2 separate regions of the Homo sapiens genome follow, and region 1 is linked to region 2. Evidence: fine-mapped expression QTL. A gene starts in region 2. The other region holds a variant in brackets. All regions are shown on one strand. Distances are from middle to middle. Region 1 has its middle 3.1 kb from the start of PSME4. Region 2 holds the start of ACYP2 (acylphosphatase 2).

Region 1 (5,322 bases), 140 kb after region 2:
AATGATTTTTGAAGGAAAAATTCAAAACTTAAAAATCCTACAGGAACTAGAAAAAACTCAACATTTCTCAGATCTAATATTCTTTTTTTCCTCCCAAATCTTCAGACCAGATCTAATATTCTTGTTCCTCTAATAACTGCAATTCAGCAGAAGTCTGGATATTTAATTACATTGCAATGAATCATTCTAATTCAAATACTTCTAAAGATTACGTTTCTGGCCAGGTGTGGTGGCTAACCCCTGTAATCCCAGCACTTTGGGAGGCTGAGGCGGGCAGATTGCTTGAGTCCAGGAGTTCAAGACCTGCCCGGGCAACACATTGAGACTCTATCTCTACAAGAAATTAAAAATTAGCCGGACATGGTAGCATGCACCTGTAGTCCCAGCTACTTGGGAGGCCAAAGTGGGAGAATCACTTGAGCCCAGGAGGTGGAGGCTGCAGTGAGCTGTGATTGTGCCATTGTACTCCAGCCTGTAAGAGAGTGAAACCCTGACTAAAAAAGAAAAAAAAGATTATGTTTCTGGCAACAGAGATTCATTCACTTGCCAATATATCTCTAGCCCCAAGTATATCATATATACAGAGAAAACTAAGATGGGCAAGATGTGACACTAATAACCTGTCATTTTTTGTTCACTGCTAATAAGTGATTAATTAGTGTTCCAATAAGCACATCAAAGACATAAATATTTGATTGAAAATTGTCTCTGCTAATCCCTCCAGCTGGAGAAGGAACCTCTCTCTTTAGAATATTTTCTTTGAAGGGCCACTGCATTTTCTGGGTCTTGCAAGAAGAGTGATTATAGTCTGTTTCCTTGAGGGTCTGATAAGAAGTCAGTGTCTCCCTCCAGGTCTGGTTAAAAGGATAACATCCTGTTTTTTTTGTTTGTTTGTTTGAGAGTCTCGCTCTGTCACCCAGGCTGGAGTGCAGTGGCGCGATCTTGGCTCACTGCAACCTCTGCCTCCCGGGTTTAAGCGATTCTCCTGCCTCAGCCTCCCAAGTAGCTGGGACTACAGGTGCATGCCACCACACCCAGCTAATTTTTTGTATTTTTAGTAGAGACGGGGTTTCAGTGTGGTAGCCAGGATGCTCTTGATCTCCTGACCTTGTGATCCGCCTGCCTTGTCTCTCCAAAGTGCTGGGATTGCAGGCGTGAGCCACCCAGCCCAGCCTCAAAAGGATAACGTGCTGTTATCCTTTGGCAGTGTCTCCTGACCTTCAAGAGATAACAAGTTGGACTGAGAAGAGAAAATCCACCCCAGACTTTGGGTTACTGTCTCCACTAATGAGCAGACCAGCTCCCCGAAAGAAAGGTCTTCTAACTTTCTCACTGGGAAGCATTTCAATAGTGTTCTCCATGAAACTTTATTTAGAATAAGAGGAAGAGACCTTATTTTGCTTGCTCCCGTAAATTCTTCAACTTTTCCAGTTCAGATGTTTGTTTCTAGGGAGCTCATTGTCATCTGGAACTGCTTCTCTGAATTTTTTTTTTTTTTTTTGAGACAGAGTCTCGCTCTGTCGCCAGGTTGGAATGCAGTGGTGTGATCTCAGCTCACTGCAACCTCTGCCTCCCGGGTTCAAGCAATTCTTCTGCCTCAGCCTCCTGAGTTGCTGGGACTACAGGCGCACGCCACCATGCCAGGCTAATTTTTGTATTTTTAGTAGAGACGGGGTGTCACCATATTGGCCAGGCTGGTCTCTTCGAAATCTTAAATCCAAACATTTCTATTCTTCTAGATCCCTTGCTCAGGCGAATCCTTTCATCTTTCCCTTATAGCTCATCAGCATGTAAGTGTCTTGACATCTCTCTTCTCCTTCCCTATTAGCTCTCTACTCTCTTCACTTACACGTCAACCAAACTTAGACTTTAACCACTCTCTTTCAAATATTCTCAACTCAATTATCTCTAGAGAATTCAGTGAGATAATGTAGGTAAAGCACTGGCAGACAGAAATGCTCAATGAATGATAGCTAACACTACCATCACTACTGGCAACATAAAAAACATTATCTTGATCTTTTGTCATTCTATTATACTAGTATGTCACTAGTATATACTGTATGTCACACAATCCTGGGCCACTAAACAGTATTAGGGAAAAAATCATTAAATTGTGCAGATAGATAATAGTAAATTCAAGCTTCCAGCCTTACCTGCCAAACAATTCTAACTTTTTAAATCAATTTTCTGAATTCTGAGACTACTCTAAGGCTTCTTCAATTTCCTCAAATCTACCTACCACTTCCCTATAATTCTCATTGTCTTGTTTCATAGGAAAAAATAGAAACTATAGAAAGAACTTCTCCAACTTCCAGTACCAAACATTCCAGCATCTGCACCTATGCTTCCTTCCCTGCTTTCCTCCTCTGACAATGGAAGCACAGTTTGATTTGCTTCTAAAGGTCAATGACTCCACATTCTCTTCCGCTCTTTGTCGTCCTCACCCAATATCTTTAACTTCTCTCTCCACTGGCTCCTTTTCATCCATATTTAAATATATCTAAATATGGCCGGGCTCAGTGGCTCAAGCCTGTAATCCCAACACTTTGGGAGTCCAAGGCGGGCGGATCACGAGGTCAGGAGTTCGAGACCAGCCTGGCCAATATGGTGAAAGCCTGTCTCTACTAAAAATACCGAAAAAAAAAAAATTATCTGGATGTGGTGGTGCGCACCTGTGGTCCCAGCTACTCGAGGCGCTGAGGCAGAAGAATCACTTGAACCCC[G/A]GAGGCGGAGATTGCAGTGAGCCGAGATGGATCCATTGCACTCCAGACTGGGCTACAGAGTGAGACTCAAAAAAAAAAAAAAAAAAAAAAATATATACACACACACACACACACACACACACACACACACACACACACACACATATATATATCCCACATTCAAAAATCCCTCCTTTTATTCCAAGTACCTCCTCATTGTCTCGCGCGTCCGTGGGAAGAGACCACCAAACAGGCTTTGTGTGAGCAACATGGCTGTTTATTTCACCTGGGTGCAGGCAGGCTGAGTCTGAAAAAGGAGTCAGCAAAGGGTGTTGGGATTACCATTAGTTCTTATAGGTTTTGGAATAGGTGGTGGAGTTAAGTGCAATGTTTTGGGGGCAGGGGGTGGATCTCACAAAGTACATTCTCAAGGGTGGGGAGAAATACAAAGAACCTTCTTAAGGGTTGGGGAGATTATAAAGAAACTTCCTAAGGGTGGGGGAGATTACAAAGTACATTCATCTGTTAGGGTGGGGCAGAAACAAATCACAATGGTGAAATGTTATCAGTTAAGGCTATTTTCACTTTTTTTGTGGATCTTCAGTTGCTTCAGGCCATCTGGATGTATACATGCAGGTCACTGGGGATATGATGGCTTAGCTTGGGCTCAGAGGCCTGACACTCATCTCTTTCCGGCTCTCCCTACCCCATTATTTTTTAAAAGGTTGTCCATATTTGCTGCCTCTATTTATTCACTTCCCATTTGTCCTTTGTCACCATAATCAGATTTCTATTCTACACTCCAACGACACTGTTCTTATGCGCTTTATCAATAAACTATCCAATAAACCCTTTCAGGTTTCACTTCATTTGACCTGTTAGCTACCTAAGGTAGGATTGTTCGCTTCTCCATGAGACACCCAGTTTCCTAGAACTCCTCCTCTCTCTGCTTTTTGTGAATATTCTTTGTGGCCTACCTTCCTTTTCTCTGTCTGTCCTTAAATGTGGGGCTCCTCAGAGATTTGTGAAGGGCCCTATTTTTTCATACTGTATATTTCCTTCCCTCCTGTCGTCCATCTACACGCTAATCTGCATCTCAGTTTAGATCACCCTCCTGATACATATGTCAACATACCCATCCCATAGGCATTCTGCCTCCCAAGCTGTTTCTGCTGTGTTCTTTATCTCAGTGAAGGACTTCACCTATCTACCCAGCGTCGTCTTGTCTCTTTCCTTTTTAATTTTTCACTTTCAGTCAACTACTAAGCCCAAGCCATTCTGCTGAAGTAGCTCTCAATTTCAACTGACATCCAGGCCATGATTATGTCACACCTTAAAGGGTCCTCCAGTTCCCAATCTTGTCAGTTCCAACCCATTTTCCAGACGAAGCCAGAGTGACTCTTTTTTTTTTTTGAGACGGAGTCTCGCTCTGCCACCCAGGCTGGAGTGCTGTGGCACGATCTCGGCTCACTGCAAGCTCCATCTCCCGGATTCACGCCATTCTCCTGCCTCAGCCTCCCGAGTAGCTGGGACTACAGGCGCCCGCCACCATGCCCGGCTAATTTTTTTGTATTTTTAGTAGAGACGGGGTTTCACCATGTTAGCCAGGATGGTCTCCATCTCCTGACCCCGTGATCCACCCGCCTCGGCCTCCCAAAGTGCTGGGATTACAGGCGTGAGCCACCACGCGCCTGGCCCTTTTATTTTTTGAGACGGAGTTTCGCTCTTGTTGCCCAGGCTGGAGTGCCCTGGCGCGATCTTGGCTCACTGCAACCTCCGCCTTCCGGTTTCAAGCGATTCTCCTGCCTCAGCCTCCCGAGTAGCTGGGATTACAGGCGTCCGCCACCACGCCCGGCTAACTTTTTTGTATTTTTAGTAGAGACGGGGTTTCACCATGTTGGCCAGACTGGTCTCGAACTCCTGACCTCGTGATCCGCCCGCCTCGGCCTCCCAAAGTGCTGGGATTACAGGCGTGAGCCACTGCGCCCGGCCGCCAGAGTAATTCTTAAAAAATGTAAATTATATCATCCCACTGCTATGCTTAAAATCTTTTGGAAGTTTGTCTCTAGGATAAAGCTCTGAATTCCTTAGGATTGCCTTCTCAGTCTCATTTCTCCGTCCCCTCTCTTACGCTATTTTGAACTTTGAATTTTTAGAATACATGCTTGCAGCGTCAAAGCTGTTCTCTCAGCTGAAATACGTGTCCTCCTCCCTCCTTTTTCTAACCAACTTTGCACTCAACCTTCATAGCTTAAATTAAGTATCACTTCTAGGAAAATGACACCCTCTCAAACCCCCTAGTTTCAACTTCTTTGTAGAGTTCCTAAGGATTCTTGTACTTATCTAGCAATTAAGAGCATTATCTTGTAATTCACGTCTTTATCTCTGCTAGACTAAGTCCTTGGGAGGGCGGAAACCAGGTTAAACTTTCTATCTCAATAGCCTAAACTGAGCGCCTTACACACAAAACAGCTGTTCAAATAGCATTTGTTCAGCGAGTAACTATTTTCTTCTTTGGAATGATGGCGGCCAGAATACCAGAAAGATGGGGACTTAAAGGGGACAGAAAAATTAAATCTATAAGGAACAAGCGGGATGGAGTAAATAAATCTATAAG
Region 2 (5,382 bases):
TAATTCAACTCTTCCACCAACCGAGGTTCCATAAACACCCCCAGTCTTCTCATTAATAAATTTCTGGCTGAGTGCAGTGGCTCACGCCTGTAATCCCATCACTTTGGGAGGCGAAGTGCAGGAGGATCCCTTGAAGCCAGGATTTCGAGACTTGCCTGGGCAACAGAGACCCTTTCTCTACAAAAAAATTTTAAAAATTAGTCATGCATGGTGGCATGAGCCTGTAGTCCCAGCTGCTTAGAAGGCTGAGGCAGAAGATCACTTGAGCCCAGGAGTTCCAGGCTGCAGTGAGCTATGATTGTGCCATTGCACTTGCTCCAGTCTGGGTGACAGAGCAAGACTCCATCTCTTAAAAAAATAAAATTAAAAAAATAAACTTCTAACACAAATTTACCTTTAAATTTTAATAATGTTTATCATACTTTTTATATTTTCATCTAGTGTTCTAATAATAATTTCAATAATAACTCCATCCAGACAAAAAATTTAATACTTGGAGCTGTTGAATACAATGAGTTCTAAATTTCTCTTCAAAGAATCAGTATGTCAGTATGCTCGGTTCTTTGCGCTCTAAAGTCTAGCTTCCTCGTTCTCCTCGCCTCTAGTTTCAGTAAACAACCTTTTCCACCAGTTCTAATCAGTAGTTCACCTCTATTCCTCTGGTCACCTGCTCCATCCTGAGTCACCCCTGGTCACCTGCTCTGACCTGAATCATCCTGAGTCACCTGTTCTGTAACCACCCTTCCTGCCAAATTATTCACCCCGCCACTTGAGCTCGTACGCCTGCTCTTTAAAATAGCCAGTCGGAATTAGCTTAGACTGTGCGGTCCAACCCTAGCCAGTAGGGGAAAGACACAGCAGTAGAGGCTACCTGCATCAGGAATAAGAACCCCTTCCCCTCCCCTGTTCAGGTGTGCCGTTGCCATTGCTTCATCCGCGAGTCGCACCCTTCTATAGAGGTAAAATTGCCTTGCTGAGAAAATTCTTTGAGCGCTAGTTCTTCTTTTTGGCACCAAAGAACCAGCATTTGTTTCTAAGAGAGCCTTATTGTCAAAGGAAATTAAGAAAAAGCATTACACTTATTCATACATGTGCATATATGTACATATACATATTGCAGAAAAGTATGATAGGGTGAGCAAAAAAAAAAAAAAAACCCTCAAGCAAAACAATGGGGTAATTCGGTGGGAAAAGTGAAATGAAAATCAAATTCAAAGAGGAAAAGAAATGAGTAAAATTTCCCATTGTTGAAGAGTTTTATTTTAAATGAAGATGGTGGATGTTAAATCACTACCCTATTTATATTCCATTGCATAAATCTCAGAGTGACTTAATATTTTCATTTATAAATATCAATATTTTCAACAAGCCAGACATTACAAACTTGGCAACTACTTAAACTTAGGATGAAACAAAAATTAGATAACAATTTCATTCTTTTAAGAGCTACAAAGAGGTCTAAAAAAAGGTTTGACCTCTGAAAAATTAACCTTAAACCATCTAAGTGTCCTTCCTAAAACTCAAGTCAAGCCCAGGTAGCTTCAGTGGCAAGCAACGAGACCACTAGTTAAAAGACCCTCTTCTTTTCCTACCCAACTTCAACATTCCCCCGTGCCGCTTACTCCCGCACCCAGCAGCCGCCCACTTCTGGTCCTCAGCAGTCCCCTGACCCCTCCTCTCCCGCTCCCCCACTTCCCTCCCCATTCCCGTACTTCCGCCCGTCCAAGTCCTCGGGCGCATGCGCGTTTCGCCTCCCTCCCCGCCGCCGCTGCTGTGTCATGGCGGAGCGGAAGTCCCAGCCACAACGGGAAAAGGCATACTTTAGGTGGGAGGCGCTTCTCACAGCTTTCTCCCCTTCCTCCCATAACCTTTTTGATCTCCCACCGTAGAGGGGCCTCCTACCCTGCACTCTTCCGAACACCTCGTAGTCCACGGATTTGAGTGACTGGGCGGTAGACATGGCGGCGGCGAGCCCTCTGTTGAGGAGCCGGAGAGGGGCTCGGGGCGCAGCGACTGCGGCGGCTGCGAGAGGGAGGGGACACATGGGACTGCTTGGCGCACCCCGCGCCTGTCACCGGTCCCGGACGCTAGCGCGCCGGGGTCACGCGTCGGAAGCGGCAAATGAGACTGCGGGGCCTGGGAGCGAGGGCAGCCGGGGACGCCAGGAGGGAAGAGGCCGCTGGGCCCCAGGCATCCTAGGCCTCTCTTCCCGGACTGGGGAGGATGCTGTCTCCACAGCGCTCCCTACCATTTAATTGATCAAGGTACTCTGTTCTCAAAGTTAGTAAATAAAAGCCGGATGCTGTGCCCAAAAAAAGAGTGGCTTCCCCCAGCTTTATTAAAGTGTAATTGACAAATAAAAGTTGGGTATATTTGTGGTGTACAAGGTGATGTTTTGACATATGTATGCATTGTGAAATGATTACATCAATGAAATTAACGTATCCATTGCACCATTTTTTAATGAAGAGAACATTTAAGATCTACTCTCATCAATTTTTAAGGACACAATACATTTATCGCAGTCACCATGTTAGACAACAGATCTTCAGAACTTATTATTCACACTAACTGAAACTTTGTACCCTTTGACCAATATCTCCCCATTTCCAACCCCTTTCATCCCCCATCCCAGGTCCCCCACCCCACTCCATCCCAGCAAGATTGGCTTTTGAAATCAAGGGCCTGCGTGTTTAGTGTTTTGAGAGTTAGTAAATTATTTATGAAATGTTTAGGTGACTACCAAGCCAGCTTTTAAGATAAGGTCTGCAACATCTTGAGCTCTTCTGTACAGTCAGGAAGGAATTGAGCCTGAACTCGTATTCTAAACGGATTGTGATATTTTCTGGGATAAGAAACTTTTTAAAAATATGAAGTCTTTTATGCTAGTGGAAACAGACAAAAGAAAAACACTGTAGTCATCTTGTCTGCTGTTCATACAGTTTTTTTGGTGTGGGTTTGTTGCTGTTGTTTTGAGACGGAGTTTCGCTCTTGTCTCCCAGACTGGAGTGCAGTAGTGCAATCTCAGCTCACAGCAGCCTCCACCTCCCAGGTTCAAGAAATTGTCCTGCCTCAGCCTTCCAAGTAGCTGGGATTACAGGCATGCGCCACCTCACCCAGCTAATTTTTGTATTTTTAGTGGAGACGGGGTTTCACCATGTTGTCCAGGCTAGTCTCAAACTCCTGACCTCAGGTGATCCACCTGCCTCGGCCTCCCAAAGTGCTGGGATTACAGGTGTGAGCCACCACACCCGACCTTTTTTTTTTTTTTTTTTTTTGATTGTCTTGATTATTCTCAGCAACATCCCAATTGCCTAGAAGGTTAAGGCTGAATTTTATTTCCTGGTGAGCTATTACCAAGTTTTAATATAAAACCATCCACCACTCCAAAGGATCTGGATACAGCTATTGATAATCTGCCACCTTCTAGAATTCCAAATCTGTTTACTTGTGAGAATTTGCATTTCTCTATTTGTTGGCCTCAATACCTTGGCATATTTCTCTGCATCTGGCCACACAGTTAAAATAATCCACTGCAATCTGATTCAATATACTGTGCCAATTCTATTAGAGAACACCAAAAATCATCCAAAACTTGGTTAGAATATGGTTAAATCATTTTTAAAGTAAAATATATTCTGGAAATGCTAGTGCAGTTAATTTATGTAGTGAAGGTCTTAGTTTATTGCAGAGACCTCGTAACTTAACTCTTCCATCTCCCAGTTCATTCCATGCAGACTCTAGAATCAACATAAATTTTAAATCATTCTTCTTAATACGTTCAAAATAGAACCTAAGGTCTTCAGCCTCCACTACCTGCTTATGCAAATCCTGCATTTAAACTATAGTCAAGACACTCTCGGTTATTCTGCTCTCTCAGTACAGAGGTTTAAAACAAAGAACCTCTTCTCTTGGGTCTACTCTATCTGGAATGCCTCCCCCTTCTCCAAAATCTTCCTCTATCCCGCTCAGTCATCTCTGCGAGTGGTTACCAGATTTTATCCTAGTTATTTAGTGTGCCTTCCCCACTAGTACAGTCAGCCATCCATATTAGCAGGTTCTGCATCCATAGATTCAACCAACCTCAAACAGAATTTTTTTTTTTAAGTATCTTGGCCTGCACGGTGGCTCACACCTGTAATCCCAACATGTTGGGAGGCCAAGGCTGGCGAACAGCTTGAGCCCAGGAGTTAGAGATGACCAGCCTGGACAATACAGTGAAGCCCCGCCTCTATAAAAAATACAAAAATTACCTGGCTGTGGTGGCCTGTGCCTGTAGTCCCAGCTACTTGGGAGGCTGAGGTGGGAGTAGGATCACTTTTGCCCAGGAGGCAGAGGTTGCAGTGAACCGAGATGGGGCCACTGCACTCCAGCCTGGGTGACAGAGCGAGACCCTGTCTCCAAAAAAAAAAAAAAAAGTCATCTCTACTGAACTCATGCAGACTCTTGTTTCTTGTCATCATTCCCTGAACAATACAGTATAATAGCATTTACATCGCATTAGGTATTTTAAATAATCTAGAGATGACTTAAAACATACAGGACAATATGTGTATGTATGTTTCTATTAGGAACTTGAACATTCCAGGATTTTTATATCCAAGGGGATTCCTGGAACCAATCCCCTGCAGATAACAACGGACAACTATAGCATAGCTTCTAAGTAGTCACTGACTGGGAAGGTTGACATTTTCCTTTTCTTAATCTTTGACTTTTCTCCACATTTACCCAAGAGTACCCCTGCCAATTATTAGGTAGGTTTATTTGAATTTTAGAAGTGCTATAGCAACAATTGACATTTGCTTAGCTGAAAAATTTGCTGTGTCTGCCAGCAGTCTAACATTAGCAAACGGAAATTTTTATGTACCATTTCGGCATGGATTGCCAATAATATGTGATTCTAAGTCTTTAGAAAATGTACGCAAATGTTTCTAATATATGTTTTAAGTAATTATAGTATGAATGCAACTTTTATTCTTCTTTTCCATGTTGTAGTCTTTCCAATGAATATTTTAATAAATCACATTAGGTGGATAAACCACACATTTACCTACTGTGAGTCCCTGTTGTTACATATTCAGGCTGCTTCTCATTTTTCACTACCATAAAAAAGAAAATATTTATGCATGTAGCTTCCTTCCCACATATTTTTAATTGAAGTTGGAATATCAAATCAAGGGTATAAGCATGTATTGTTCTTGATATATATTGCCAAACTGTTTTTCGAAGGGCTGTGCCAATTTAAATATATTACTACCAAGACTGTATATGATTATTTGGCTTTTTATACAAACAAATGTATGCAGGTCCTTCACGTACAATGCATGATTAAATTATATGAAGCTTTGGTTTTGTAACCTGAGCAACAGCTTTGGAATAACT

Evidence for each region. PIP is the estimated chance that this variant, and not a neighbour inherited with it, causes the effect.
Region 1: its variant is fine-mapped to the expression of ACYP2 in monocytes after LPS (Fairfax 2014, PIP 0.92).

What each region holds. Positions count from the first base shown.
Region 1 is chr2:53,971,403-53,976,724 of GRCh38, reverse strand. It overlaps a transcript of ACYP2 not described here. Among named protein-coding and RNA genes, the nearest start is that of PSME4, 3.1 kb to the right of the region's middle. RefSeq lists an enhancer at 5,214-5,263. The variant G/A (reference allele first, on the strand shown) is at 2,727.
Region 2 is chr2:54,112,277-54,117,658 of GRCh38, reverse strand. ACYP2 (acylphosphatase 2) reads right to left here and starts at 2,044. Exons shown (of 4, transcript NM_138448.4): 1 at 1,903-2,044. The coding sequence starts at 1,960. RefSeq lists silencers at 1,596-1,655, 2,146-2,215.